Regions from separate parts of the Homo sapiens genome. Here region 1 is linked to region 2. The links come from fine-mapping of genetic effects on gene expression. A gene starts in region 2. The other region holds a variant in brackets. All regions are shown on one strand. Distances are between the middles of the regions.

Region 1 (15,445 bases), 410 kb after region 2:
CATACTTTTTGTCTTTCACTTCTAGGAGGAGATTGTATTTCGTTACTACCACAAACTCAGGATGTCTGTGGAGTACTCCCAGAGCTGGGGCCACTTCCAGAATCGTGTGAACCTGGTGGGGGACATTTTCCGCAATGACGGTTCCATCATGCTTCAAGGAGTGAGGGAGTCAGATGGAGGAAACTACACCTGCAGTATCCACCTAGGGAACCTGGTGTTCAAGAAAACCATTGTGCTGCATGTCAGCCCGGAAGAGCCTCGAAGTATCTAACATTTGGCTGGGGAGCATTGAGGGACCTCCTGGCTGGTGCATGGCGCCAGGACTAGAGTGAGGCCGGAGAGGTTCCTAGGATGCAAAATTGAAGGAGGCATCCCTCTCAGGTGCTGACTCTGGCCTTGCACAACCCTGAGAATGATGCCTCCTTAGAGGTGGCTCCTCAGGTGCCTGGCTTGCCTCACCCTAGTTCTGGCCCTGCTGCTAGGCCAAGGGGAGGGGAGCTAATTTAGTGAATACCAATCCTCTGCCAGACCCCACTCATTGCCAGGGTCATCTACTGATGTAAAGATACAGAAGCTCAGGGAAGGATCGGAGTTGATGTCCAAAGTCAGCATACTTGGTTTCAAGGGAGGTGCTGTATGTGTTAGAGTGGAGCGGGAAATGATCCTAAGCTAGTGAGAGACAGCCAGGAACAGAGAGGAACATGCAGGCACCAGAACCAAAAATGGAGGGTTTTCTGATCAGAGGTTCTGGATTCTGGCAAACAGTGTGCATCAAGGCCAGTGCTGTGTAGGAGAGGAAAGACTTGATTGTGTTGACAGAGAGAGGTTGATAAGTGAGGGGTTAAAGTTAAACCATAACCCAGTTAGCAATCAGGATGTGGCCTGTGGACTTTGCCTGTCGCTAGGGCCTTCAGGAGTTGGCTGTGGTTGGCTGGGGGTGGGGAAGATGGGGTGAGGATGGAACATACCTCATACCTCAGGCCAGAGACCTAAGTCTGTGGAGGCACCTTGTCTCCAGCTGGAGAGGGGAGCACGGCAGGTCTGTGTGCTTCCTTCTCAGAAGTCCAATTCACAGAGAAAATCGAGCCATTATGGGGGCTCATGCAGCTTCTCCACCCACAAACATATCTATGTCTCCCCCATTCTTATCTCTGCCCTGCCATCCTGAGGCAGAGGAAGGTCCCTTCTGCTCTGGGCTTATCTGGCCCCCTGTGCCCAGGTGGTATCCTTCTCAGGAACCTTACAACATGGCTCTTTGAGCTCACTTTCTGTTGGTTTCTACCATTCAATGGATACGTTTGCTCAATTCTACTACTTAATTACTCCAGCTCCATTCTATGTCTTTTTTTCTTCAGCTCCATTCTGTGTCTTTCTTTTTCTTAAGATTGTTTTCCTGAGATACAATTCACATACCATACAATTTGCCCATTTAAAGCGTTCAGCTCAATGGTTTTAGTACATTCAGAGTTGAACAACCACCACCACAATCACGTGTTTCTTTCTCAACATAGCCAAATAGCTTGCTAAAGGTCTGTGTTTGGTATCTTACTGTCTCATCTCCCATTAACTCCTCAGTGCACTGCATTCTGGCTTATTCTACCTCTACTCCAGCTTAGATCACCAATGGCACTGCAATTATCCATCCTCAGCCTTCTCTCCTTCAGTAGCATTTATATGCACTCTATGTTGGACACAGTTCCACACACACCCATGGATATACTTAGTCAACTCTACACAAGTTTTCCACAAATCCTTCATATGCAACATGTCTAACCTACCCCTGCACACCCCTCCTCAGCCCATCTCCCCAACCTCAGTTGTCTAACTAGATGCCTGGGGGTGTGCTTGATTCTTTCCCTTTCCTAGACCCCTAATCTAACAGGTCAGGTCAACAAGTCCTTGACTCCTACTACAGACTCTTGAAGTTGTCTTCCTTCCAGTCTGTCACTGCCGCCTTAGTTCTGGCTGTCTTCATCTCTGTCTTGAACTGTAGGCCTCTAACCAGTCTCTGCTTTCTCTCTCAGCCACTGCTCCTCATTCTTCACGCGGCTCTTGGTGCCATCTTTCTAAATCACATTAAGAACTTTCTCTTCCACTGCTAATAATCTTTCAATGTTGTTTTCATTGCCTGCAGAAAAATGCCAGATTCTTGGTTGAGATAGTCAAGGTCCTTCCTGACTTGGACCCTGTCATCTCTCCAGCGAAATTCTCCAGCACACCCACAAATGCCACTTTTGTGCCAGACCCGTTGAACTCTTTCTAGTTTCTAAAATCATCATCCTGTCAGGCCTCCAGATCTCATGCAGAACATCCCCTCTGTCCTTCTCCATATTGTCTTCCCAACAAACTGGATGTTTCCTGTAAGTCTTAGGTTAAACTTTAGAACTTTTGCTGGCAAATTCTCACTTGCTGCATATAGAATTGGACACCCTTTTTTCTGTGCCCCTCTGTTCCCCATACAGACTTCTGTTGTAGCGCCTACAGCAGCCTGTGGTTTTCTGTTGACGTGTTTGTCTTCTTCCTTGGAAGCAGGGACCACACATCATCATTCATCTCTGAATCCCCTGTACCTAGTGCTGTCTGGCCCTGAGGAGGTGTTTGCTTTATGTATTTAGAAAGAACCATGCAGATGAGTAGAAGGTTCCATATGGGCAGAAGTACCTCCGGAGGCTTTACTTGGTATCGTCACTGTGGGGCTGAGTCTTGCGGCATGAGTTCTTTTGAAGACAACCACTTGCCCTAAGGAAGATCAGCAGCCTCTCAAATGCCTGTTATTTCTGGGTCCTTGTTAAGCCAAATTTTAGAATAGAATTGTTGATGTGAAAGGAAACTTTACTAGAGGTGAACTGCTAGCCTCTTCTCCCACCCACCTTAATCTACATTTTAGGGTAAACGAGGGGGTTAGACTTTGGTTCTCAATCTCATGGAGACAGTGTCCCTAGTGTCCAGATATGGGGTGGAGTCTGGCCTTCCCCTCCGCTTCGTGGCCTGGCTGGTGCTACTTGGTATAGGGCTGTGGGGCTCTCAGCTCTTTGCTAAAGTATTGAGACCCTCTCCTTGCTTTTCTACTTTCCCAAGCACTGGTGACCCCGGCAGCCCTGAGGCCTCTGGTCTTGGGTGGTAATCAGTTGGTGATCATTGTGGGAATTGTCTGTGCCACAATCCTGCTGCTCCCTGTTCTGATATTGATCGTGAAGAAGACCTGTGGAAATAAGAGGTACAGGGCTACCCCCACCCCTTGGATTGGGAGGCTGGGGGTGCAAGGCTGCCTCTACCCCAAAGTAGAACAGGGTGATAGGGCCCTACTTATGCCATTCTCACAGAAGGGGGTATTTTTAAATGGAATCATCTGTGGTAACCCTGCCCACTTTGCTTACTGTGCCCGGGAAAAGAATTTAATATTCCTACGCTCTCCTCATTCACTTTGTTATTATGTAAAGACTACAAACTCCCTTAGAAATGGGGGCCTCAGTAGGGCATAATTCAGAGCATAAATCTTACACAAGAACTATCATGGTACCATTCACTGCCTAAAAGATGATTTTTAAATTATCCATACTGTACGTTCCGCATAGAAGCTAAGATCTTAAGGGTTGCCAGTGGTTTTATCTAAAAGACCACATTCTAATTATGAGATACGATCTTTGAATGGGTGCCCTCAGGTTCTAAATGAATTATTATTAAAAGATGCTTTTGGCCAGGCGCAGTGTCTCATGCCTGTAATCCCAGCACTTTGAGAGGCCAAGGCGGGCGGATCACGAGGTCAGGAGATCGAGACCATCCTTGCTAACACGGTGAAAAGCTGTCTTTACTAAAAATGCAAAAAATTAGCTGGACGTGGTGGCATGTGCTTGTACTCCCAGCTACTTGGGAGGCTGAGGCAGGAGAATGGCGTGAACCTGGGAGGTGGAGCTTGCAGTGAGCCGAGATCACGCCACTGCACTCCAGCCTGGGTGACAGAGCGAGACTCTGTCTCAAAAAAAAAAAAAAAAAAAAATAATAATAATAATAATGTGCTTTTAAAGGCCTGAATTTCATCGGTAGTTCTCCCAGGGTCTCAGAAGTGCCCAGATGCTCCAACAGGGACACTTGTGTTTCACTGGCTGTTGGCAGATCCATGTCCCTCAGTTTATCCAACTATCGATGGAGTATGCTTGTAGTGCAGATCGACTCCCTTGTTGAAATAGTGTCAGTGGGAAAGGGCCTCATGAATAGTCCTGACTTTTGAGTGTTCTTTCCCAGTGGGTCTTGGATCCTGCAGAAAACACTTGTGCCTGCTAAGTTTTCACTTGCACTCCCTAGGGCTTCCTGATTTGGTTTTGAACTTGGCTGGCCTCTCTAAAGGTCTTTGCTCTGGGCATGCTCGGAGCACTGAGCTAGACAACCTGGATTCCACTCTCAGCTTACTTCCCCTGTCGGGACCTCAGTTTCCCGCCAAAGGAAAGGTAGCACTTCCATGTCTAGTCGTTTATTCTAAAGAAATAATTAAATGGATATGCTGAGATTTGTGCAAAACTGCCGTCTTGCTTATAATTAAAAATAGGGATAATTGCCAGTGTCTGTCAGAAAGGCAACGATTCAGTGAACCAGTCAATGAAACACTCCAGATCCCTCTACATAATGACATGGAAAGATATCCAAGGAGTAAAAATACAGAATTTATGGTATGACCTCATTTTTATAAAAGAGAAAATAATATGATGCTCACTCCAGCAGCATATGTACTAAATACATTTTATGTGAGCTTATGCTTACACTGAGAGAGGCTTGGAAGGACAGTTGTAAAATGTGGGTAATTGTGTGGAATTTGAAGTGAAGGAGAAGGTGGATCCCATGGGGTGACGGGTTGCAGGGAACTTCCACTTCCAACTGTCTACATTTCTGTATTATCTGAATTATTTGACAGTGAGAAGATACAACTTTAAAAGCAGAAAATACAAGGAAAATATTTCCACTGAGACCAAAACATATGGTTTCTTTTCTAGCTTAAACCTTGAATTTTTTTTTTTTTTTTTTAGTTCTGACTTAGGCCAAAATAGAAAAAAAGAAAGTATGTTCAGAAGGCAAATGGTCATGAGATCAAAGGCCAAGGGACCCCGACAGGGCAGGCGCAGAGCTCCTGCTTGGGGCTTGGGTCGGGTGTTTGTGGGGGTTATTCTGCTCCGCCCCCCGGAAAGGCCAGGAGCCCTTCGGATTGGCGTCTTGCTGAGCTCCTGCTGCCCCCTGCTGGTTTCGCGGCACTCCCTGGTCCTCAGAAATGTAGACAGGATGGTCAAATGGAATCCCATCTCCCCTCTCTCTCTTCATTCACTTAAAATTACCTCTCCCATACGGACTGAAAGTGGCTTGAGTGATAATAGAGAAGTTGAAGCTGCTTTTCAGCCTAAATTATCTCCAGAACGGCTTCTTGTTCTTCATTAGAAGAGATGCGCTTCTCAGGTTTCCAGGTGAGCCGGGTAGCCCTGGCTGTAGGAGTCCAGAGAGAATAGTTCCTTCTCTGGTGTCTCTCTCTTCACGAAGCCAAGAGGGGATCTCATGTAGGGACCCTTGAATAAACCATGCCCGCTGGTTAATTCCACATGCTTTTCATGTCTTGCAGTTCAGTGAATTCTACAGTCTTGGTGAAGAACACGAAGAAGACTAATCCAGAGATAAAAGAAAAACCCTGCCATTTTGAAAGATGTGAAGGGGAGGTGAACACACGCTTCAGCCTAAAACACTAAGTAGATGCAGGCCTGGGCCGTTCTCATACCCCCGGGAACCATATCTTACCCATTGTATGTCGCAGCTTGCAGGCCAGTGCTTGGCACAGAGCAGGGACTCAGGAAGCCTTTGTCACTAAAGTAAGAGCCTCTGCGGAGTACAGTGCATGGGGTCGGCTGGGACAGCCCCAGGCAGCAGATCCTGGTATTGGGCTGAGGAAAGAGCACTGCGCTTGGAGTCAGTAAGATCTGCCACCTCCCTGAGTCTCATCAGCAAAATGAGGATAAAGATAAAGATACTATAGTTGCCCAGCCTGCTTGACAGGGTTGTTGTAAGGTTCACATAAGATGATGATATGCAAATGCTTTGTAATCTAGGAGGTGCTATTTGTCTAAAGTCTAATGGAGAATTATAATACATCCAGGAGTTAAGGAGTTCTAATGCTTAAAATGAAATAGTCTAAGATCTTAGCAAGAAAGGATTAAGAAGGACTTTTCTCTCCATATTGATTTTGTAATGGAGTTATAAATAATTGCTTCTAGAGACTGAGAAATTGATTGGTTTTCTTTAACTCCTATTCTTTCTTTTCTTTCTTTAATTTTAAAAAAACTCTTTGAATAGTTACCTTTCTCTATTTTGGGCTGTTTTTGTCCCAAGAGTAGGATTTTTTCCCAGTAGAGTGCAGTGGTCCAAGAATGGGCCACTGGATGATACTGCTTTACCAACGAGTGACAGGACCATGAACCTCACAGTTGTGAGGTTCAATGAGGGCTGGCCCTGCCACATAAATCCTCTGAGGGAGATGATGACAATTCACTGCTGATTAATGCCATTCTGCCTTTACTGTAATTAGAAGGAAATAACCCCAGAATACAAGGAATTTAGCAAGATAAGGAACCCCTGCTGCTACCTAAACATCCATCTAAACAAAGATGTTTGGCTTTTGAAGCAAAGAGTTTGGTTCTTAAGACTGTGTTCTTTGACAGTTAATTTTCAAGAAGACTGAAGACTGAATTATCATTGTTGAGAATTCTCTAGGTCTCAGTAACCCTCTGAACCAGCAGTTTGGGTGGTCGATGCCTAGCAAATAGGAGTGGGTGGCCTTTTCTCTGGTGTATAAGATTCATCTAATTTTTAGGAATTTTTGTACCATTTTCCCCCTCTAGAAACACATTTACTCCCCAATAATTGTACGGGAGGTGATCGAGGAAGAAGAACCAAGTGAAAAATCAGAGGCCACCTACATGACCATGGTGAGAATGATTCTGGCCTCAGCTGAGCCAGGTGTCAGAGGCTCAGGTGGTGGTGGTGGTGGGCGTGGCTGGGTTGCCCAAGGGAGGCTGCTGAGGGCGGTGATTTTTCTAAGTAGCAGAAAAGTCTGAGAAACTGAAGTTCTGCTGGATAGAAGAGTGATATCAAACTTTCTTACCCAAGCTCAAGGATTAAAGGTTATCACCAGAGATTATTTATATTAGTGGTGAAAAGAAGTGAAGAGTGGCTTTTACTGAGGGCAGGGAGGACGTCTTTTGCCTCATCAGTTCAATCTAATAAAGAAAACACGGCCGGGTGTGGTGGCTCATGCCTGAAATCCCAGCACTTTGGGAGGCCGAGGTGGGCGGATTGCTTGAGGCCAGGAGTTCAAGACCAGCCTGGCCAATGTGGCAAAACTCCCTCTCTACTAAAAATACAAAAATTGGCCAGGTGTGGAGATGCGTGCCTATAATCCCAGCTACTTGGGAGGCTGAGGCACGAGAATTGCTTGGACCTGGAAGGCGTTGGTTACATGAGCC[G/A]AGATCCACCACTACACTCCAGCCTGGGAGACAGAGTAAGACTCTGTTTCAAAAAAAAAAAAAAAGGCCGAGCATGGTGGCTCACACCTGTAAACCTAGCACTTTGGGAGGCTGAGGCAGGTGGATCACTTGAGGTCAGGAGTTTGAGACCAGCCTGGCCAACATGGTGAAACACTGTCTTACTAAAAATACAAAAAAATTAGCCAGGCATGGTGGCGGGCACCTGTAATCCCAGCTACTTGGGAGGCTGAGGCAGGAGAATTGCTTGAACCTGGGAGGTGGAGGTTGCAGTGAGCTAAGATCGCGCCACTGCACTCCAGCCTGGGAAACAGAGCGAGACTCCTGTCTCAAAACAACAACAACAACAAAGAAAATAGGATAAATAGGATAAGATCCTTGGGCAAGTATTGTGTTGCTGTGAGTCGTTTTCCTTGCTATCAAAAGGTCAAAGTAGGGTTCCTTCCAATGCTTAGATTTTGTTTCTTAACTTTGTGACTTATTATACCTTCTCATAACCTAACTGCCAGGCAGGCTGCATGCTGGATCTCATACAATATTTTGGAGTCTGATTCCTAATTTCCCTTTGCTTAGACTTCTGTAGCCCCTTAGAGAACTGCAGTGCCTGGAAAAGGCACCTCGGGGCGTGCAGTGAGTGGGGGTAGGGACAAAAGGAGTGAGCTGGCGATGAGCACGGTGCTATTTGTAGACTAATTATAGGCACCCAGCCTATTAAGGAGCAGTGTTCTGTGGGTTTGGGAAGGCTGGCCTCCTCTGCTTGTGGAATGATGGGCTTTGTTTGTTCCTATCGTACCAGCCCTGAGGACACATGACTCCCAGCTGATTGCAGCAGAGAGAGGTCTGCCAGGGAAGTGTGAGATCAGAGGCCTGGCCTGGATCCACCGAGTGAAACATTAACTCCACCCTGAAGTTGCAGCTGAATGGAATCATTTTCCCTCTGTATCTTTCTCCCATACTGTTATGTGATGCTGCAGTAACTTGCGAGGCCTCATCCTGGCTCCTGGAGACCTGCTGATACAGCTGCCTTGTGGCTACTGCTGAGTGGGTCACCAGCCAGGGTGGCACTGTTTGCAGAACGTCTCCGAGGTGGAGATGATGCAGGAGGAACAATTGTCTTCACAGCTAACTTCCCCAGGTTTAATGCTAGGCGATTATGGTTTTGATTCTGTTGAAAACACCATTCCTGTCCTCTTGATCTAGATCCAATAGAGTAAGAGAAGAGGCCTGGGCTGCAAACTCAAAGGCTGGCAGGGGCCAGTCAAGTTATTTTAAAATATGATGTGCCAAGTTAAATAAGGCTGTTGGTGAATTTGGGACTGCAGGCCACTTGTTTGAGACTGCATTTATAAAGGTGTTCTCTGATAGGGAGCAGGGGTAACAAAGAGCCTTTGTTTTTTGTTGTTGAATTGATGAAATTCATGTAAATGTAGTGGCACCTTGCTGTTTTCCCTTTCTGAGGCTGTACACACAGAGGTTAAGATCACAAGCTGTGGAGTTAGACAGACCTGGGTCCAAATTCTAACTCTGTGTTGCAGCCAGATGGTCTTGGGCAGTAACTTGGCCTGTCTGAGCCTCAGTTTCCTTATCCTTAGAAAGGCAATAATAATACCTACCTCCTGGTGGTAAGGATCACATGAGATAATGCATATGAAATTCAGTACTGGGCCGGGCTCATGAGAAGAGCTCAATGAACAGCAGCTGCTATGATTATGGAACTACTTCTTACAAGCATGTTTTGTTTCTTTCTGCCCTTCCCCCACAGCACCCAGTTTGGCCTTCTCTGAGGTCAGATCGGAACAACTCACTTGAAAAAAAGTCAGGTGGGGGAATGCCAAAAACACAGCAAGCCTTTTGAGAAGAATGGAGAGTCCCTTCATCTCAGCAGCGGTGGAGACTCTCTCCTGTGTGTGTCCTGGGCCACTCTACCAGTGATTTCAGACTCCCGCTCTCCCAGCTGTCCTCCTGTCTCATTGTTTGGTCAATACACTGAAGATGGAGAATTTGGAGCCTGGCAGAGAGACTGGACAGCTCTGGAGGAACAGGCCTGCTGAGGGGAGGGGAGCATGGACTTGGCCTCTGGAGTGGGACACTGGCCCTGGGAACCAGGCTGAGCTGAGTGGCCTCAAACCCCCCGTTGGATCAGACCCTCCTGTGGGCAGGGTTCTTAGTGGATGAGTTACTGGGAAGAATCAGAGATAAAAACCAACCCAAATCATTCCTCTGGCACATTATTTCTAAATAAGTGTTGTTTGTGGAAATCGTCCTATTTTTATGCCTCGGTTGAGGGGGCAAGTAAAGTCCTGGTGAGGAATTTACAGTTAGAAACTTTTGGAAAAACTGAAGTTCCTGGAGGAAAGCCAAACCGTGCTAACACACTAGAGGCTGGTTTTGGTCCTGGGAAAGGTTTGGGGTGAATGGGTTGGAAGTAGGGTATGAATACAGTTTTGGGATTTAACTCAGTGGTTCTTCATTCCTGCTGGTGGCTCCTTGCGGGGCCTCACCACATGCCTCCTAATTTGAAATTTCTGGGTGAAGTTTAGGCATTTGTCTTTCCTGATACTCATGGGTTGCCACAGTGGACAGCCACTGATTTAATTCTTGGTCTGAAATGTGCGGTTCCTATACTTTTAGTTGCTATTGTAAGATTTGATAAGGTTAGTCTTAAAAATCCTTTGGCGGGGGGCATCCAAATTGGTAATGAGGAAGTCAAACTGTCTCTGTTTGCTGATGACATAATCATAAACCTTGAAAACCCTAAAGACTCATCCAAAAAGCTCCTAGAACTGGTAAATGAATTCAGCAAAGTTTCAGGATACATAATTAATGTATACAAATCAGTAGCTTTGCTGTACACCAATAGCAACCAAGCTGAGAATCAAATCAATAACTTAATCTCTTTTATAATAGCTGCAAAAAAAATTAAAATACTTAGGAATATACTTAACCAAGGAGGTGAAAGACCTCTACAATGAAAACTACAAAATACTGCTGAAAGGAATCATAGACAGCACAAATGGAAACACATCCCATGCTCACGCATGGGTAGAATCAATATTGTGAAAATGACCATACTGCCTGTATTTAGTTTGTTTTCATGCTCCTGATAAAGACATACCCGAGACTGGGAAGAAAAAGAGGTTTAATTGGACTTACAGTTCCACATGGCTGCAGAGGTCTCAGAATCATGGCGGGAAGTGAAAGGCACTTCTTATACGGCGGTGGCAAGAGAAAATGAGGAAGATGCAAAAGTAGAAACCCCTGATAAAACCATCAAATCTCATGAGACTTATTCACTACCATGAGAACAGTATGGGGGAAACCACCTCAATGATTCAAATTATCTCCCACTAGGCCCCTCCCACAATATGTGGGAATTATGGGAGTATAATTTAAGATGGGCTGGGTGCGGTGGCTCTCGCCTGTAATCCCAGCACTTTGGGAGGCCAAGGCAGGCAGATCACAAGGTCAGGAGATCGAGACTATGGTGAAACCCCATCTCTACTAAAAAAAATACAAAAAATTAGCCGGGCATGGTGGCGGGCGCCTGTAGTCCCAGCTACTCGGGAGGGTGAGGCAGGAGAATGGCATGAACCCGGAAGGCAGAGCTTGCAGTGAGCTGAGATTGCACCACTGCACTCCACACTGGGCAACAGAGCGAGACTCCATCTCAAAATAATAATAATAATAATACTTTAAGATGATATTTGGGTGGGTACACAGAACCAAACCATATCATTCCACCTCTGGCCCTTCCAAATCTCATGTCCTCACATTTCAAAACAAATCATGCCTTCCCAACAGCCCCCAAAAGTCTTAACTCATTTCAGCATTAACCCAAAGTCTACAGTCCAAAGTCTCATCTGAAATAAGGCAAGTCCCTTCCACCTATGAGCCTGTGAAATCAAAAGCAAGCTGGTTACTTCCAACATACAATGGGGGTAAAAGGTATTGGGTAAATACAGCCATTCCAAATGGGAGAAATTGGCCAAAACAAAGTGGTTACAGGGCCCATGCAAGTCTGAAATCCAGCAAGGCAGTCAAAATTTAGAGCTTCAAAAATGATCTCCTTTGACTCCAGGTCTCACATCCAGGTCACACTGATGCAAGAAGTGGGTTCCCATGGTCTTCGGCAGCTCTGCCCTGTGGCTTTGCAGGGTACAGCCTCCTTCCTGGCTGTTTTCATGGGCTGGCAGTGAGTGTCTGCAGCTTTTCCAGGTGAACGGTGCAAGCTGTTGGTGGATCTACCATTCTGGGGTCTGGAGGATGGTAGCCCTCTTCTCACAGCTCCACTAGGCAGTGCCCCAGTAGGGACTCTGTATGGGGGCTCTGATCTCACATTTCCCTTCTGCACTGCCCTAGCAGAGGTTCTCCATGAGGGCCCCGCCCCTGTAGCAAACTTTTGCCTGGGCATCCAGGCATTTCCACACATCTTCTAAAATCTAGGCAGAGGTTCCCAAACCCCAGTTCTTGACTTCTGCGCACTCGCAGGCTCAACACCACATGGAAGCTGCCAAAGCTTGGGACTTGCACCCTCTGAAGTCATGGCCTGAGCTCTATGGTGGCCCCTTTCAGCCATGGCTGGAGTGGCTGGGATGCAGGGCACCAAGTCCCTAGGCTGCACACAGCGCGGGGACACTGGGCCTGGCCCATGAAACCATTTTCTCCTAGGCCTTCTGGCCTGTGATGGGAGGGGCTGCTGTGAAGACCTCTGACATGCCCTGGAGACATTTTCCCCATTGTCTTAGGGATTAACACTCAGCAACTTGTTACTTATGCAAATTTCTGCAGCCAGCTTAAATTTCTTCTCAGAAAATGGGTTTTTCTTTTCTATCACATTATCAGGCTGCAAATTTTCTGAACTTTTATGCTCTGCTTCCCTTATAAAACTGAATGCCTTTAGCAGCACCCAAGTCACCTCTTGAATGCTTTGCTGCTTAGAAATTTCTTCTGCCAGATACCCTAAATCACCTCTCTTCAGTTCAAAGTTCCACAAATCTCTAGGGCAGGGGCAAAATGCCACCAGTCTGTTTGCTAAAACATAACAAGAGTCACCTTTGCTCCGGTTCCCAACAAGTTCCTCATCTCCATCTGAGACCGCCTCAGCCTGGACCTTATTGTCTATATTGTCATCAGGCTTTTGCTCAAAGCCATTCAGCAAGTCTCTAGGAAGTCCCAAACTTACCCACATTTTCCTGTCTTCTTCTGAGCCCTCCAAACTGTTGCCACCTCTGCCTGTTACCCAGTTCCAAAGTACCTTCCGCATTTTCAGGTATCTTTTCAGCAGTGCCCCACTCAATGGGTACCAGTTTACTGTATTAGTTGGTTTTCTTTTTTTTTTTTTTTTTTGAGACGGAGTCTTGCTCTGTCACCCAGGCTGGAGTGCAGTAGCGTGATCTCGGCTCACTGCAAACTCCGCCTCCTGGGTTCATGTCATTCTCCTGCCTCAGCCTCCCGAGTAGGTGGGACTACAGGTGTGCGCCACCATGCCTGGCTAATTTTTTGTATTTTTAGTAGAGACGGGCTTTCACCACGTAAGCCGGGTTGGACTTGATCTCCTGACCTTGTGATCCACTCTCCTTGGCCTCCCAAAGTACTGGGATTACAGGCGTGAGCCACCGTGCCCGGCCATTAGTTCGTTTTCACACTGCTGATAAAGACATACCCGAGACTGGGAAGAAAAATTGGACCTACAGTTCCACATGGCTGGGGAGGCCTCTGAATCATGATGGGAGGCAAAAGGCACTTCTTACATGGGGGCAGCAAGAGAAAATGAGGAAGATGCAAGAGCAGAAACCCCTGATAAAACCATCAGATCTCATGAAACTTATTCACTACCATGAGAAGAGTATGAGGGAAACTGCCCCCACGATTCAAATCGTCTTTCACTGGGTCCCTCATACAACATGTGGGAATTATGGGAGTACAATTCAAGATGAGATTTGGATGGGACACAGAGTCAAACAATACCACTGCCAAAAGCAATCTACAAATTCAATGCAACTCCCATCAAAATACCTCCACCATTCTTCACAGAAATAGAAAAAACTATCCCAAAATTCAAATGGAACCAAAAAACAGCTTGCATAGCCAAAGCAAGATTAAGCAAAAAGAGCAAATCTGGAGGCATTACATTCCCCAACTTCAAACTATACTATAAAGCCAGTCATCAAAACAGCATGGTACTGGTATAAAAATAGGCATATAGACCAATGGAACAGAATAGAGAACCCAGAAATATAGCCAAATACTTACAAGTCAACTGATGTGTGATAAAGCAAACAAAAATATGAAGTGGGGAAAGGACACCCTATTCAACAAATGGTGCCGGGATAAATGGCAAGCCACATGTAGAAGAATGAAGCTGGATCCTCATCTCTCTCCTATACAAAAATCAACTTCAGATAGATCAAAGACTTAAATCTAAGACCTGGCTCCATAAAAATTCTAGGAGATAACATTAGAAAAACCCTTCTAGACATTGGGTTAGGCAAAGACTTCATGACCAAGAACCCAAAAGCAAATGCAACAAAAACAAAGATAAATAGATGGGATTTAATTAAACTAAAAAGCTTTTGCACAGCAAAAGAAATAATCAGCAGAGTAAACAGACAACCCACAGAGTGGGAGAAAATCTTTGCAATCTGTATATCCAACAAAGGACTATTATAATATCCAGAATCTACAAGGAACTCAAATAAATCAGCAAGAATAAAACAAACAAACCCATAAATTAGTGGGCTAAGGACATGAATAGACAATTCTCAAAAGAAGATATACAAATGGCCAAGAAACATACGAAAAAATGCTCAACATCACTAATTATCAGGAAATGCAAATCAAAACCACTATGCCATACCACCTCACTCCTGCAAGAACAGTCATAATAAAAAAAAATTTTTTTTAATTTTAAATTTTAGATGTTGGCATGGATGTGGTGAAAAGGGAACACTTTTACAAGGTTGGTGGGAATGTCAACTAGTACAACCATGATGGAAAACAGTGTGGAGATTCCTTAAAGAACTAAAAATAGATCTACCATTTGATCCAGCAATCCCACTACTGGGTATTTGCCCAGAGGAAAAGAAGTCATTATATGAAAAAGATAGGCTGGGCATGGTGGCTCACGTCTGTAATCTCAGCATTTTGGGAGGCCAAGGCAGGTGGATCACGAGGTCAGGAGTTCAAGACCAGCCTTGCCAACATGGTGAAACCCTGTCTCTACCAAAAATACAAAAATTAGCTGGGTGTAGTGGCACATGTCTGTAATCCCAGCTGCTTGAGAGGCTGAGGCAGGAGAATTGCTTGAACCTGGGAGATGGAGGTTGTGATCTGAGATCACACCACTGCACTCCAGCCTGGGTGACAGAGCAAGACTCTGTCTTGAAAAAAGAAGAAAAAAGATGCCTCCCCATGCATGTTTATAGCAGCACAATTCGCAATTGCAAAAATATGGAATCAGCCCAATTGCCCATCAATCAATGAGTGGTTAAAGAAAATAAATATGGTATATATATATATATATATACACATCATGGAATACTACTCAGCCATAAAAAGGAATGAAATAATGCCATTTGCAGCAACCTGGATGGAACTGGAGAACATTATTCTAAGTCAAGTAACTCAGGAATGGAAAACCAAACCTCATATGTTTGGGAATGGGAGCTAAGTGGGAGCTAAGCTATGAGGATGCAAAGAAGAAAATAAATATGGTATATATATATACCATGGAATACTACTCAGCCATAAAAAGGAATGAAATAATGCCATTTGCAGCAATCTGGATGGAACTGGAGAACATTATTCTAAGTCAAGTAACTCACGAATGGAAAATCAAACATCGTATGTTCTCACCTATAAGTGGGAGCTAAGCTATGAGGATGCAAAGGCATAAGAATGATACAATAAACTCTGAGGACTCAGAAAGGGTGGGG
Region 2 (15,445 bases):
CAGACAGTAGAAGGGCCCCAACACATGCAGGAGGTGGGCCTCCAGGGCAGGAATGCCTATAAGGATAGAGGGGTGGTGAGTGAGATGCCCTGTTCACACTTACCTTCCTCCAGCGGCAGGAGGGTGATGGCTGTGCTGAGTCGCCCACTGCCCAGGCTCACCAGGTGGGGTTTGTCCGTTTGCACTTTCAGCCCTTTGCCTGTCTCGATCAGGTCCAAGGGTCCTTTCTGTAGGTAGTACGGGTGGAGGACAAGCATCATTAGATTCAGCACCTTACCACCCTAAACCAGTCACACCAGCACTCTCTCCAGCCCTCGCCCCTCTCCGAAGGGCTCTGAGGGTGCTGAAAGGCTTAGCACAAAATCTTACACAGAGCATGATTCCACTAAATTGTAATTAGATCTGAATCTAGGCCACTAACTCATCCCACTGGATTTATCGCAAGTCTTGGCTTAACTGTGCCTTTTGTCTATTAAAACAGAAGCAAGGAGAAAGGGGTGGGGGGTGGGGGTGGCATTGGATAAGCAGCAGGGGTACTGTAGAGGAAGGCCAATCAAGCTCCCTGCAGACTTGTCCATGGCTATCCACGTGGCCATTGCTTGCCCCTGCTAAGCTCAAGTACAGGGAAGATAGAGGCATGGATCAAGGAGAGTGATACAGCCCAGGGTCAATCTGTAAACTGCTTTCGGACTTTCGATGGGTAGTTTCTGGGTGAACCAATTAACCTGATTCAGATAAAGACTGAGCTGTTAATAGGCTTGGGACCTGGGGAAGGGCAGAGAGGAACAGAATTGCTCCTTTCATCCTTGGGCTGGGACCACAAGGGGGTAGAAGAGCTGATCCCATCCCTATTATATCTCTCTTGCCTCACAGCCCTGATCCCACTCACCTGCACCATGGTCTGGGTCTGGCATCCAGGGCCTATTTGGTTCCTATTGAGAGCGTCCATGGTCCTAAGGCTCCAGAGCTCCTAGGGACACAGCAGAAAGGTGGTGAGTGGGGAGGCCAGGGCAGGAGAGGGAAAGAAGTAGGTTCTGTGGCAGGGTTCTCAGGGCAGAGGTGTCACCAGTCACCATCATTCCCCAAATGCTCATGCTGAAGGGAAATAGAGGCAGCTAAAGAGCTTGGGTGGGAGTTGTCTGGGAGCAGTGCCAAGTCTCCAGCCAGCCACAGCATGGATACCAGTCCTGCCCCCTGCCACTGTAAGCACAAACAGTCCCATAGGGCCCAATCTATACTTCTGTGCTTTCTTGCCCTATGCTACTCAGAACCCGGGTTTTGACAGCTGAAGACCCTTGGCCCTGTGGAGCCTTAAGCAGGGTGGGGAAAATCTACCTTAGTGGGAGAAGCAGCAAGGAAGCCCCTCCAAGGACACTGGTAGCCAGAGGGCCCCCAGGTAGGTGGCAGGGCTAAAACAGGAGCTCCCTCCTGCAACCTTTCATTCTCCTCTTCACCATTTGTCTCTTTTCCCAGGGCTTTAGTAGGATGTTTTCTTAAAGGAGACACAAAAGAAAAACTCAGCCATTCCTGCTATCTCCAGATGTCTCAACTCCTACACCTTTTCTTCCCCAGAAAGCAACCTCAACCCAACACAATCAGCTAAAAAAATTTTTTTTAATTAAAAACAAAAAACTTTAGTGATAACTAATACTGGGAATATTGGGCTCAACTCTTGGGTTCTTAATTGGCTAGGTGCTATAGGAAGCTTAAACCATTAGAACCAGGAGTAAGACAGATTCCAGAGCCAGAACTTGAATACTCCCCACCACCACCCCACTGCCCCTCACCCACCATGCATCCCTCTCTCCCTGGCTCATGTTTTTGGTATCTGAGATGTGAGGACCTTTGTGTACTAATGTATGCCCCCATGCCCATCCCTTGGCCAACTAGCTAAGCTGAGAAACTTCCCACTTGCTGCTGAAATGTTACTGGGGAAAGCTAAGAGTGTGGCTGAGGGGTAAGGAGGCAGACCCAGGGAAACAGGGTTTCCTTCCACTCTCTCTTCAAGCCATCTACCAGGGGACTTGGAAAGGAAGTAGGGGCAGCAGCCCGCATTCCAAGGAGTGTCTGACCCTGGCAGTGGGTCCCGAGGACCTTAGCTATGGTGTTACTAAATTTACCCTCCCAGCTTCCACCCTTCCGGACCTGGACTGCATCATCTCCGTCACCATTTCCACCCAAGCTGGCGGAAGAGAGGCCGGAACCCAGGCTGGGGCCCACCCCAAGACTGCCAGGGAAGAGGGGAGGGAAAACGCCATTAACCTATGCAAAGCCCCAAGCTGGCCTGGCACCTCCCCAGAATTCCTGGCCATGGAGAAGAATTTCCAAGGACAAAGATTGCTGTACTGCTTCCTTAGACTCAGGGAAATCCCTCAGCATTTTCTGAGGGAGGAGGGGCAAGAGAGTGGGTTGGGAATGGGGAGTTTATGTAAAAAAGGGGTTAAGAAAAACAAAATAATAAATAATGGTGAAGGAGAAACATCATCCTTTGGTAGAAAGAACTTTAGACTGGGATATATAAAGCCTTAAATTCTACCCTGACTTTATTTATTTATTAGCTATAAGATCCTAGACAAGTTATTTAACTTCTCTGATTATCAAGTTATTCTTCTATAAAACTAGAGTAATGGAAAAAAATAAAAAAGACTGTCTGGATCAGTGCTTGCCTGGGGCTAGGGGTGGAATGAGGAGTGACTGTAAAAGGGCACAAGTTTGGTGGGGGTGGGGTGGGGGGAATGTTTTCAAATTAAATTGTGATGATTGCATGGCTCTGTAAATATACTAAAAATCTTTTAATTGCATACTTAAATTGGGTGGATGTTATAGTATATAAATTATACCTCAATAAAGCTGTCAGTTTTTTAAAAAGGACTGTCTGAAATTCAGGTATTATATTAAATGGCATTCTGTGAAAGCAAAGCACTTAATGCCATTTATTATTATTATTATTATTTTTTTTTTTTTTTTGAGACGGAGTTTCACTCTTGTTGCCCAGGCTGGAGTGCAGCGGTGCTATCTCGGCTTACCGCAACCTCCACCTCCCGGGTTCAAGCGATTCTCCTGCCACCAAGCCCAGCTAATTTTGTATTTTTAGTAGAGACGGGGTTTCTCCATGTTGGTCAGGCTGGTCTCGAACTCCCGACCTCAGGTGATCCGCCCGCCTCGACCTCCCGAAGTGCTGGGATTACAGGCGTGAGCCACCGCGCCTGGCCCCGTTTATTATTATGAGCTGTGTGACCTGGAGCAAGGCAGTTCACCTGTCTGGGCGTTAGTTTATTTATCTGTCATATTGGAGTATTGGTCACTATCGCCGTGTGGGGCAGCTGTGGTGTGCTCATTTATTTACACCCAAGAACTTCAAGTGGAGATAAAGATTGTAAAGGAGTAAGGCCGATGGAGAACAAGAGTGATTAGAGGAGAGAAGAGAATAAGGAGGCGAAAGTAAAGGGAGAGATAAGGAGAGAGGTGTGGGGAGAAGATAAGAAAAGATGGAGAGATTGGGAGGTGCGAGGCTGTGGCCCCAGCACAGTAACCTGATCCAAGAGAAGTGGAAAGAGACACCAGGCCAACCTGCCCTGCACTCAGGCGGTGCTTTCCCAAAGGGCGATCGCCGCGGCCGAGAGCGGCCACCTGGGGGCGCCCTCACCTTGACTCCCGCTCTGGCCCCGGCGGCTGAGTGGCGCTACGCGAGGGACGTCCCTCACCTGCGGCCCCGCTTCCATCTGGCCCGCGGCTCCCCAGCAACCCGGCTGTCATTACCCGCCCGCCCGGCCCCGCGGCCAAAAAAAGACCCCTGCGGTGCGCGTCCGGCCCTGGGTGCCCTCCCGCACGCTGGGTACAGACGCCCCAGTGCCGCCCCGGCAGCCGAGTGGCGGAGGCCCAGGTGTCTGGATTTGACGAGCGACAGGCAAGGCCCTCTGTGCGCAAGGCCGGGGCGCCGGCAGGTGACCCCGGCCCGGGCCCTCGGCCTCCTCCCCCGCGGGAATGCGCCGACACCCCAGCCACGCGGGACACCAGTCTGAAGCCCTCTCCGCCGAGTGGAGCACCCAGAGTGAACTCTCGGGGGTCTTGGCCCCCGCCTGAAGGAGGCCAAGGAAGGGCCGACTGGCTCCAGCACCAACGGGCACTGACACAGCTCCCGGGCTCCCACGGAGTCCCAGGACGAGAGGTCCAAAGCCAGCCCCAGAGCACCAGACCCGGCCCTTCGCGGGGCCACTGCTCGGGCGCTCCCCGGAGCCCCGCGGGTCGCCCGGCCTCACCTGTGTCCCTGGGGGTCGGCCTCGGCCTCGGCCCAAGCGGTGCATGGCTGTGGCCAGAGGCCCGCCAGGCCGAGCTGGGGTCCTCTCGGCCGCCGCCTTCGCCCTCCAGGCGCACATCCGCCCTCGAGAAAGGGCCGCCGTCAGAGGAAGGAGTCAGGAAGGGAAGGAAACTGAGGCGGGGAGCCCAGCGGGGGACGCCCGAGTGGGGAGGGGGACGAGAGAACTTAAGGATGAGAAAAACCTGACAGAGATGAATGGGGGTGTGCAGAGGGACGGGGCGGGGAAGGGGAGCCACCGGGATGTGAAGGGGAAAATGAAAGGCAGACTAAGAGATGGGAAAAAATGCAAGCTGGGGAGGGGAAGACCGAGGGCAGAGGATGCGGGGAGACTGAAGAACACAGAGGTGGAGGGGTCGGGGGAAGAAAGGACAGGCGGGTCCTCAAGTGGAGGCGACGACAGACGGGAACACTGGGGATGCGCGAGGGCAGCGGAGGGGAGGCTGACGGGCGGGGAGATGGGGCGAAGGAGAGGGAGGCTGGGGCCCACCGGGACCCCAAAGGCGGAAGAGAGGAGAGATGGGCGGCCCGAGGAGAGGGGGAGCCGGGAGAGCGCGGATGGAGCGAGGGCTGTTGCTTGGGTGTCCGGTGGTGGAAAGGTGCCTCTCCGCGGTCCGCAGGGCCGAGGGAGGGAGGTTTCCGCAAGGTAGCGGCCCCTTGCACCCCTCGGCCTGCTCCTGCCCAGGCTGCCCGCGTGGGACAAGGCCGCAGTGTTGGGCGCCTGCCGCTGCCGCCTGCCCGCCCGCCCCTGACAAGCGGCCTTTCTTTGGCGGGGCAGAGAGAAGGAGCCGCTTGTTTGCGCGGCCGGGAAACGGGGCGGCCCCCACAGACACCGCCCGTTCCGAGCCTGGCAGCTGCGGGAAGGGCGGCTGAATGTGTGTGAGGGGCCGCGTGTGTGAGCTGGGGCTGCGGTGTGAGCTGGGCTGTGTGTGTGACTGGGGCTGCATGTGTGAGGGGGCTGCATGTGTGAGCTGGGCTGCGTGTGTGAGCTGGGCTGTGTGTGTGGCTGGGGCTGTGTGACGGGCTGCGTGTGTGAGCTGGAGTGTATGTGTGAGCTGGGCTGCGTGTGTCAGCTGGGCTGTGTATTGAGCTGAGCTGTGTGTGTGATAGGCTGTGTGTGTGATGGGCTGTGTGTGTGAGCTGGGCTGTGTGTGTAAGCTGGGCTGTGTGTGTAACTGGGGCTGTGTGTGTGAGCTGGGCTGTGTATTGAGCTGAGCTGTGTGTGTGACGGGCTGCGTGTGTGAGCTGGGCTGTGTGTGTATAACTGGGGCTGTGTGTGTGAGCTGGGCTGTGTGTGTGACGGGCTGCTTGTGTGAGCTGGGCTGTGTGTGTGAGCTGGGCTGTGTGTGTGACGGGCTGCTTGCATGAGCTGGGCTGTGTAACTGGGGCAGTGTGTGTGAGCTGGGCTTCGTGTGTGAGCTGGGGCCTCGTGTTTGACTGGGGTGTGTGTGTGAGAGCTGGGGCTGCGTGTGTGAGCTGGGCTTCGTGTGTGAGCTGGGGCCTCATGTGTGACGGGTACGTGTGTGAGCTGGGTTGTGTGTGTGACTGGGGTGCGTGTGTGAGGTAGGCTGTGTGACTGGGGTGCATGTGTGAGCTGGGGCGCGTGTAAGCGGGGCTGCGGGTGTGAGGGGCTGCGTGAGCGCGGGGCGCTTTCCTGTGAGGCGTAAGGCATGGAGTGCGTGGGAAGGCCTCGGCGTGTGGGCGGGTCCGGGTGTGTCTGGGTGGCGTGACGCAGGGACGTAGGTGTGCGAAGTGTCGCGGAGGCGTGCGTGTGTGCCGCGTGGGAGCCCGGCGTGGTGGGGCGCCTGCGTTTGCGTTTGACGGCTGGGGGGTGAGCCCGCCGCCCGATGAGTCAGCCTCGGGAGGCTCCAGGACCGCTGAGCTAACGGCCCAGAATGCAGCCCCGCCCCAGAGCCGTGGGTCCCCGGCAGGGCTGTGCGGTCGCCCGGCCAAGTCCCCACTCGAGCCTGCCTCGGCGGAAGCGCTAGCGGGCGACTCGGCCACCCTGCGCCGGCGCCCCTACCCAGCCGCCCGCCCGCACTTCCCTATCCCGGGGGAGCCCGGATGACTTGGGTCAGCCTCCGCTCGGGGAACTCCGCTAGGGATTCCAATAGGGACCGCGCGGGCGTGGCAAGGCGCCCCAGGCGGCCTCCCCGGCCCCCGAGGACGTGGGGCCTTGGGGAGTGCCTGGGAGGCCCCAGGCGGGCTTCCCATCTCCTGGACACCCCCAGGCAGCCCTCCTAGACGCTCAAGACTCTGAGCCGGACTCCGAATCCCTTCCTGGTCCATCAAGGCGGCCGGCCTGGGGACAGGCGGGGAGACGTCACAGGAGATACCCCCGCCCCAAGGTCCTGCTGTGGGCGGAGAGGGGGAGGTGTGGGGCGCTGGAGGACGAAAACCCGCGCGCGCGCTCGCCGCCCGATACCCCGCGAGTGTCCGCCCGGCCGCCTGGGTGCCGGCGGGAGAGTCTGGATAGGGCCAGGATCAGAGTTTCTCCAAGGGGGGGAGAGCGTCACGGCCCCCTCTGGCGGTGGCGTTGGCAGCGGCCGAGGAAGGCAAAAGCAAGAGGCTCACAGGAAAACTCCCCATAACGCTCCTTTCGCCCCCACGCACTCACCTGGGGTGCCCTCTCTCCCCCACGGGTTTCTGCCGAGCTCCCTAGCCTAGAGCTGATCTCAGGGCTCTCGCCAGGCCCCGGGGACTTCCCCTTATCCAGTCCTAGCACCGCAGCGAATGGGACCCGCAAGTGTAGTGGGACGGGGCGCTCTTACCTAGAGGTGGGGGGGGGGCAGGGAGACACTGGTCCCTTAGCCTGGCTCGGCTCGGTCGCGGTGGCCTCAGGCTTAGGAGGACACCGTTGCTTTTCCCCGGGAGCTCGCTAAGTAGGAGGAGAGCGAGCCTGTCCCGCCCCCCTCCCGCCAGTCCCCGCCCCCGTCCCCCGTCCCGTCCGCCTGGCCAGCCAAAGAAGACGCCCTTGTGGGGCTGGAGCCCAAGGTCCCCCCACCCACCCTTTCCCACAGCAGCACCTCCCCCAGCCTGCACAGCGCCCGCTTTGTTCATCTTTGCAGCTGGGCTCTCCACCATCACCACCACCACCACCACCACCACCACCACCACCACCACCACCACCACCACCACCACACATCCCCCTCTCCTCCCACCCTGCCCTCCCGACTCTCCTAGACCACCCTCCACTCCCAGGCTTTAACACGCTTTTGAGAGGGTGTTTTTGACAATCCGTTCTCCCTCCCCCAAACTCTCCCCTCTTTCTTTTTGCCTTAGATGCCTGAAACCTCCACGGGCTCCCACTGAACCTCCCAAATCGAAGCCCCTACAACATGCTCTCAACATCTCCAGAACATCTACTGAGGGTACCCAGGTCTTCTCCCTGTCACCTCCTCCCCTCGCCCTATTCCAAGCCCCACCATGAAGAGCTGTAAATGACATTGATAGCCACGCACATCAGGCTTCACAGACTTTCTTAAGGATAGGCACAAGAAGACTCGTTAAAGTGTCATGCAAACTCCAAAGCACAGGAAAACCGAATGGAATTATCATCTTGCCCCCATGGAGCTCCACACCCCTCCACCCCGACAGACTTGCTGGATTACAGATTGGGAGATGGAGGCAGGCTATAGACATACAATTGAGCACACCAACCTGTAGTAGGAGTGGGAGTTAATAAGGAAGAGAAGGAGGCACTAAACACCTAAAAGCAGCCCCCAAATTGAGCTAGGTTGAAGTCATTCTCCATCTCAACCTCCACTCCGAAATCCAACGCTGACAGTGGATCCTTACCTTGCAAAGCCAGCTCTTGGTCCAGGAGACTGGCTGGGGAGGCCCTAGGGAGCTGAACTCAGCTGGACTGGACTTCTTTGACCTGCACTAGAGGGACCCTGGAGACTCTTCTTCACTGAAGGAAGGAGCAGAAAGCCTGTAAGTCTGGTCTAAATTCCAGCTGGGGTGGATAGCAAAAAATAATTTATCCTCTTTGAGATGGACAAGTGCTGTTCTAATTCAATGAGTTTAGTTTGTGCCGTCTCTCCCTAACCCAGGAACAGCAGGAGGCTGAACTACAGGAATCTCTGGTCACTCATTGACAGGGCTGGCCTTAGCAGGGGACCCCCCACGGCTGGAGACTGAAGCTGACCGGGGCCAAGCAGCAGACAAGGAGGGGGAGGGGAGAGGCCGCCCTTTGCTGCCACCTGCTATAGCTAATGGAGGTGGAACACTCAAGATCCAGAATATGCTGTGGGTACCAGGAAGTCCTAGGATTTGAGGAGCGAGACTCTAGTTTTTCCTCTCTTCATACTGTTTGAAGTCATGAAAGTAATTCTGATGAACCTTCATGAGGCAGATCACAACAGTAATATTCAGGCTATTTGGGTATGTAAAAAAAGGAAGAAGGAAAAAACCCAAACTGTTGTATCCCATGTGCCAAGACCCAGCACTGAGGGGAGGGGTCCAGATTGCAGTACCTCAGAGGCTTTTCACTTCATTCTGTTTCACGGCCCCCAGCTCCTCTTTACTGTACTGGGCAGGAGGAATTTCAGGGAATAATCAAGCCTGCCATGGAGGCAGTGGATGCTGAGGCAGAGGGTCGAAACAGCACCCAACTTCTCTCACTGACCTCCCAACACAGGGACCAGCTGACCCTATGATAAAGGCGCTGTGCAATGTGTCCTCTCCCCTGCTGTGTCAGGCCTCTATGTTCCCACAGTTAGAGCACTCAGGGGACTAAAGACCTACCGCCCCCACTCTCCATCTCCGCCCTGCTCCACATCTGGAGCCCATCAAAAAACTCAGCGCTCTCTCACAGTTACGCAAGAGGTCGAGCAGCTGGGAGCTCAGGAAAGGGGGAGGAAGAGAGGGAAAGAAAGCAGAAAACAGCTTTCCAGGCCTGCTTCAGACTTTCCGAAGTGGAAGCAGGGGGAGAGGGCAAAGCCTGGGTGTGGAAGGAAGAGTGGATTTTTCTAAGGCCCTTTGCATTGGCTACAAGTGTCAGGAGTGAATTTCCATACTCCTGCTTTTGCCTTGGCACATTCCCCACTTTGTCCCACCTCTCAAATTGTACTCCCTCTAGCCCCAGAGAGGTGATTATTGCTCATACAGCAAGCAATCCTTGTAGATACACACCCTCTTCCAGAAAGCTGTCCGTTTCTGGCCTCTGGATCCTGAAGTCAGGCATCATTGGTGTAGGCGTGGTGGTAGCAATGACCCTGCAGCAACTTGGGGAAAAGTTCAAAGCTCTCTTTTCAGCTGTCTTAGAAATTGCATAGTCTGCTTCGACCCAAAGCTAACATGCATCCAAGCTAAGTGGGAAATTTGGGTAGGACAGAAGACTGGTCTTGTGTACCTCCAAGGCTAAGGGCTTTCCTAATGAGCTAAAAGAACAAGCATTCATTTGGGCAAAAGAATGGGAGACAAGACCTATTTCAATTTCTCTCATTGTCTTGAATTTCTAATGCTTCTTTCAAACAGCCCCTGTCCTGGTTTGGTAATCAATCTGATCACCCAGAGTAAACCTAGGGAAGCTTTCCAGTATTGGTTTAGACCCTAAATAACCACTTAGCCCCTGCCCTAAGAACAGCAGGGCAAAAAAACTGCGGTGGGGGATGGGAGAAGTGGTCCAAGCTTCTGAAAACTGCCTAATAGCTTGACTTGTGATTGTGAGAGGGAAAACAGCCTGGTTTGGAAAGATAGTCTAATTTTTCTAAAGGCCTACCTCCGTATCAATCCCCAACTCCCCAGGATAAGACGTTAAGGCAGCTATTTGTAGTGTTGCTGTCTGCCCTTGGGTAACAGCAATGCACAGCAACCAACCTACTTGTGGATCTTCTAGGACAAGGGAATTGGGGGTAAGGGGGTTGTAATAAGACAGATGTGCATAGCAAAAGAAAATCATTTGTGAGGTTTTGCTTGAGATTCCTCTAGAGCCTACAAGACAGAAGCCATGTTACCTACTCTCATATAGATCCATGTTTAGTACTAGCTGTAGTTAACACTTGTCTAACTTGGAAAAAAAAAGGCTTCACAAGCAGATAGTCATTGCTTCCAGTTAGACTTTAATCTTCTTGAGGATGACTTTTTCCATTTTTCTCCTGTCTCCTTCCAATAAGCCCTGTCAGATGTGAAGTTTAATAAAAAGCTATTCTATATCAACCCTGGAAATCTCAGACCCTAGCCAGTGTGAACAACTTTAAAACTGTTCACAATTTAAAAATTAATTGGAGGGCAAAGTTTCCCATCAGAGATGCATGGGTTGACAAATTTGAAGCTATGGTGAGTAAAGGAATGACAGACCTTAATCATTTCATTCGATTAAGGCTACAGTCTCAGACAGCTAAGCCACACTTGAGCAACATTAGACCAGATACTTTTTTTCACCAAGAAAAAAAAAATCAGAATCTTGGCTTTCAACATTAGAAATTTCTCATCCCAGATACTTAATAAGTGAGAATAATTTGCCTTCCAATTTTTTGACACCCAATAGTTTTTCCAAGTTAAATTTTAAAAAAGCATAAGAAAGTAAGCAGCTCTGGCGGAGCGCGGTGGCTCAGGCCTATAATCCCAGCACTTTGGGAGGCTGAGGCGGGCGGATCACGAGGTCAGGAGTTTGAGACCAGTCTGACCAACATGGTGAAACCGTCTCTACTAAAAATACAAAAATTAGCCGGGGGTGGTGGTGTGGAATGCCTGTAATCCCAGCTACTCAGGAGGCTGAGGCAGGAGAATCACTTGAACCCTGGAGGTGGAGGTTGTGGTGAGCCGAAATCATGTCACTGCACTGCAGCCTGGTGACTGTCTCAAAAAAAAAAAAAAAAAAGGCTGGGCGCGGTGGCTCACGCCTGTAATCCAGCACTTTGGGAGGCAGAGGTGGGCGAATCATCTGAGACCAGGAGTTCAAGACCAGCCTGACCAACATGGTGAAACCGTCTCTACGAAAATACAAAAAAAATTAGCCCGGCATGATGGCGGGTGACTGTAATCCCAGCTACTCTGGAGGCTGAGGCAGGAGAATCGCTTGAAGCTGGGCGACCGTGGTTGCAGCGAGCTGAGATCGCACCACCACACTCCAACCTGGGCAGCTAAGCGAGACTCCATCTCAAAAAAAAAAAGTAAGCAGGTTTATCTGAGGGAATTATCAACAGTTCCCAAAAATTGTTCCCATTATCCCTCATCCCTGGATCACTTCTCATCACGGTCTAATGGGGAAGAGAAGACTCCAAGACTCCAAGATTAAAGATGAAGCCTGACTTTTTTGACTCTCCAACTGCCGTCTGACAAAATTAAGACTCCAATCCCCAAAAAGGCCAGAAGTAGCATCAAATTCAAAAGCTACACTGTCAGGAGTGCATGTATCAAATGTAGAAAAATACGCAAGGAAGCACAATACATATAAGATGGAAAAAGGCAATGAATACTCTCACAGATTACTTTCTCTTAAAAAAAACATGTCATTAATTTTTAATGTTAGGTCCCATTACAGCATCCTGAATCAACAAGCAGACACCAAAGTGAGTCAATAATCCAATAAACATCTCATTTTATAATGCGCTTTATTTGATTAAAGAATTTGCCTTCTTTGTATACACTGGAATGTTATATTCCCTATGTATTTTACAGGGTTACAAAATGTCTCTCATTTTAAATATTACCCCAAAAGTAATCTCAGAAAAAAAAGGTTTTTTGAAATTAAACTTGACTTTTAAAAAATCATACGGACAAACAACTTTCAAACAAAACTGGATTAGTAGGATTTCTTGCCTGCTTAACTAACATGACAGACTTCTTGTCCCAAGCCCTTCTCAGAAAAACCTCATGTGGAAACCAAGCTAGAGATAAGAATTCTTCCCTGATGCAGTTAGGGGAAAGGGAAAGGCTAGAAACTTCTTTGGCAAGCAATTCCACACACAGCCATTTATGTGTGAGTGCTCTGCTTCAAGCACAGTACACTCTTTGCAGGGACGGCCAGATGTTCAGAGTGGGAGTGGTACTTTTCAACCAGCTAAAAGTGCAGAAGTCATCTAGTCGTCTGCCTCTTCCCACTGCCAGTGCCTGCAGCCTTGCAGCAACTTTTAACCACCCCTATGGACTGGAATATTGAGTTAAAAGCCAAGGCTGAGCTGGCTGACGCTGTAGTCTCCATTGAAAAGGAAATGGATGAGATGGAACCGAGAAACCACCAGTACATGATGACACTCAAAAGACTTAGGGGGAAAGAGAAGGAAGGATTTCAGAGATGGGGACAGACTGGTGGAAAATGTTGGGCTGACTGGAAGGAAATGGGGTATACGTGAGTAATATGTACATATCGAAACAATCAGTTGCCTCCTGAAATGCAAAAAATCAAATGGTGAAATGGAGCCTCCTTGATAGTTTAGGGCCAACAGGATTGGCAAAGACTCCCTGAACCCACAGCCTTCAAAATCATAACCCCATTTCTGTTAGAAAGGAGGGGACTGATGACAGAGAGTGCAGTCTGGAAGAGGGAGGTGGTGAAACTGAGGAATGTGAATGGATTACAGACTGTGGCCATTACGTTTTAGCTTAAGTACCCAAAATGTGGAGAAATGAAAATTTGGGTAGCAACAGCAGCAGACATGATTACATGTGGATGTGAAATCCCTAACTGGACAGACATAACCATTCTTTTAGACATCTTGAAGAGGGACTGTGCCATTTGAAAGGTGCTTCTCAGCTATCTTTAATATTGACACAAGTGGGATTCATGGTACTGTTCTAAACTGGAAGGACAGGCCCTGAAAGGAAAACAACTTGGCAAAGAGATGAAGGAATGAATTGATACGGGAAAAGAACAGAAGACATGCGTATCTTTTAACTTCTAGACCCCATACCCCTCAAATAGTTCACCTGAATAGTCCAAAAATCAAGAATGGGTTAGATATACTTGTTCCAGGAGTGCCAAATAAATATAATGCCTGTAAACAGATGATCCCAGTGCCTGACTGAATGTATAGAAAGAAAAACCTAAAGGTAAAGGGTATGAATGATTAAAATTTTCTACAGAGAAAACTTTTTAAAAACAAACTAAGTATGAAATATAACTATATTTAGGGATTATATTTAGGGATTAAAATAAAGGAGCAGCTGGGCATGGTGGCTCATGCCTGTAATCCCAACACTTTGGGAGGCTGAGGTGGGCGGATTGCCTGAGCTCAGGAGTTCGCGACCAGCCTGGGCAACACGGTGAAACCCCGTCTCTACTAAAATACAAAAAATTAGCCAGGCGTGGTGGCGTGCACCTGTAGTCCCAGCTACTCGGAGGCTGAGGCAGGAGACTTGCTTGAACCCAGGAGGCGGAGGTTGCAGTGAGCTGAGATCATGCCATTGCATTCCAGCCTGGGTTACAAAGTGAGACTCCATCTCAAAAAATAATAATAATAATAATAATAATAATAAAATAAAAATAAAGGAGCAACTTAGGTAAAGGTAGAGGAGGTATTTAACTGGGGGCATTCTCTGGAGAGCTTGCTTTCCTGCTGGCCAATACAATCTGCCAAAGAAAATTAGCAGCCTTTCCCTTTATGTTTGTGCCATTTCCTTATCAAAGAATGTCTCTGTGACACTGAAACATGGGGGTGAGTCGAGGGTCCTTGCGCGCAGAGAATCGTGCATTGTATCAGAAAAAAGGGGTCTCCAGTGGCTTGTAAATCTGGGAAAAACTCTTCAGCCATCATTGGCGTCTTCTTTATTAATCTGAAAATTTTCCTTTTCAGCTCCCTCTTCTTGGTATTACAGAATTTCATACTTATCCACTAGGAAAGTGGTCTCTGTGGAAAACCTGACGGGGCTGTTTCCATCTACCTGGGTCACTTTGGTAACCTAGGAAAATAAACAAAGAGTAAGGTAAAGCAGGAGGTTTGAGTCTCCATCATGTTGACTACATTCTCATTACAGAACATATCAATTTCCCTAAAAGCGGTATTAAAAGTAACTGTAAAATACTAGAAAAATGTTCAATTCACAACTGAAAGTCACAGCATCACTCTTCCCCACCAAAATGATTAAGCTGCTTTTCTTCTAGATGGAGAAAAGACAACTGTTGGGACGAGATGTTCCGTAGTATTAAGTAAAAGCTCCAAAATGAGTGGCCACAGCCCAGCCCTGCCCTGTATAACCTATGAAATTCATAGACATTCTATCAGGATGATATATTAACATTCTGACCCAAAAGGCAACGTTCTAGCTCTTCACATTATTCATTTGCTCTGCTCTCAAAGTCTCGTGTTAAAAGTCCCAGTAAGCTGCTCTATCATACTTATTTTTTAGGCATGGCTGGTCCAATGAGGTTTTTCCTTTTTAAATAAATAAATGTCCAGCTTAATTAATTACATGTAACAATGGTACCTATAACGGCACCAATACAACACTTGAACCACTGATTCGTATTTTCTAATGAAGTTTTGGGAGAGCAATTATAATGTCCTAATCTTTGAATAGCCCCAATAGGAAAATTTACCCATTTCTATCTAATGTCTTGAGTTCAATACAGTTGCTTCCAACACTGATGGGGTTATGTCACTAACAGGATAGGGAGAGAGAACTGCTCTTTGGAATCATTCAAGGGAGGAAGCTGCAATTTTCTAAGCATTTACAGGGGAGACGGAGACCATATGGGAAGCTAAGGTAGGGCCAGAACAACAAGCAAGTCAAAAAGAGGGGAATATTAATAATATAAACTGGGTCCTAGTAATGCAAATTAAAAAACTGGAAGAACAGCCAGACGTGGAAGCTCACTCCTGTAATCCCAGCACTTTGGGAAGCCGAGGTGGGCGGATCATCTGAGGTCAGGAGTTAGAGACCAGCCTGGCCAACATGGTGAAACCCCATCTCTACTAAAAATACAAAAAAAAATTAGCTGGGTGTGGCAGTACACGCCTGTAGTCCCAGCTACTTGGGAGGCTGAGGCAGGAGAATCACTTGAACCTGGGAGGCAGAGGCTGCAGTGAGCTGAGATCGCACTGCACTCCAGCCTTGGTGACAGAGCAAGACTCCGTCTCAAAACAACAACAACAATAAAAACTGGAAGAATGATGAGTTAAAAAATAATGATCCGGGCCGAGCGCGGTGACTCGCGCCTGTAATCCTAGCACTTTGGGAGGCCGA

Which allele goes with the higher level. Alleles are on the strand shown, and positions count from the first base shown. SD is a standard deviation of normalised expression in the study named.
For the expression in monocytes after LPS of the gene that starts at base 7,171 in region 2, allele G in region 1 goes with a lower level than allele A (large effect, 0.85 SD a copy in Kim-Hellmuth 2017).

Evidence for each region. PIP is the estimated chance that this variant, and not a neighbour inherited with it, causes the effect.
Region 1: its variant is fine-mapped to the expression of PHLDB1 in monocytes after LPS (Kim-Hellmuth 2017, PIP 0.95).

The regions. Positions count from the first base shown.
Region 1 is chr11:118,188,246-118,203,690 of GRCh38, reverse strand. It overlaps JAML (junction adhesion molecule like), which reads left to right. Exons shown (of 10, transcript NM_001098526.2): 6 at 26-263; 7 at 3,079-3,217; 8 at 5,600-5,693; 9 at 6,870-6,956; 10 at 9,274-9,966. The coding sequence ends at 9,366. Among named protein-coding and RNA genes, the nearest start is that of SCN2B, 19 kb to the right of the region's middle. RefSeq lists an enhancer at 9,238-9,427. The variant G/A (reference allele first, on the strand shown) is at 7,494.
Region 2 is chr11:118,599,341-118,614,785 of GRCh38, reverse strand. PHLDB1 (pleckstrin homology like domain family B member 1) reads right to left here and starts at 7,171. Exons shown (of 23, transcript NM_001144758.3): 1 at 7,087-7,171; 2 at 890-970; 3 at 104-227. The coding sequence starts at 949. LOC124902765 (a long non-coding RNA gene) reads left to right here and starts at 6,275. Exons shown (of 2, transcript XR_007062908.1): 1 at 6,275-6,663; 2 at 7,598-11,887. It overlaps ARCN1 (archain 1 coat protein complex I subunit delta), which reads right to left. Exons shown (of 10, transcript NM_001655.5): 10 at 11,753-14,161. The coding sequence ends at 14,072. RefSeq lists silencers at 3,885-3,944, 6,460-6,529, 6,590-6,679, enhancers at 4,652-5,325, 5,326-6,000, 6,038-6,332 and a cis regulatory region at 9,939-10,134.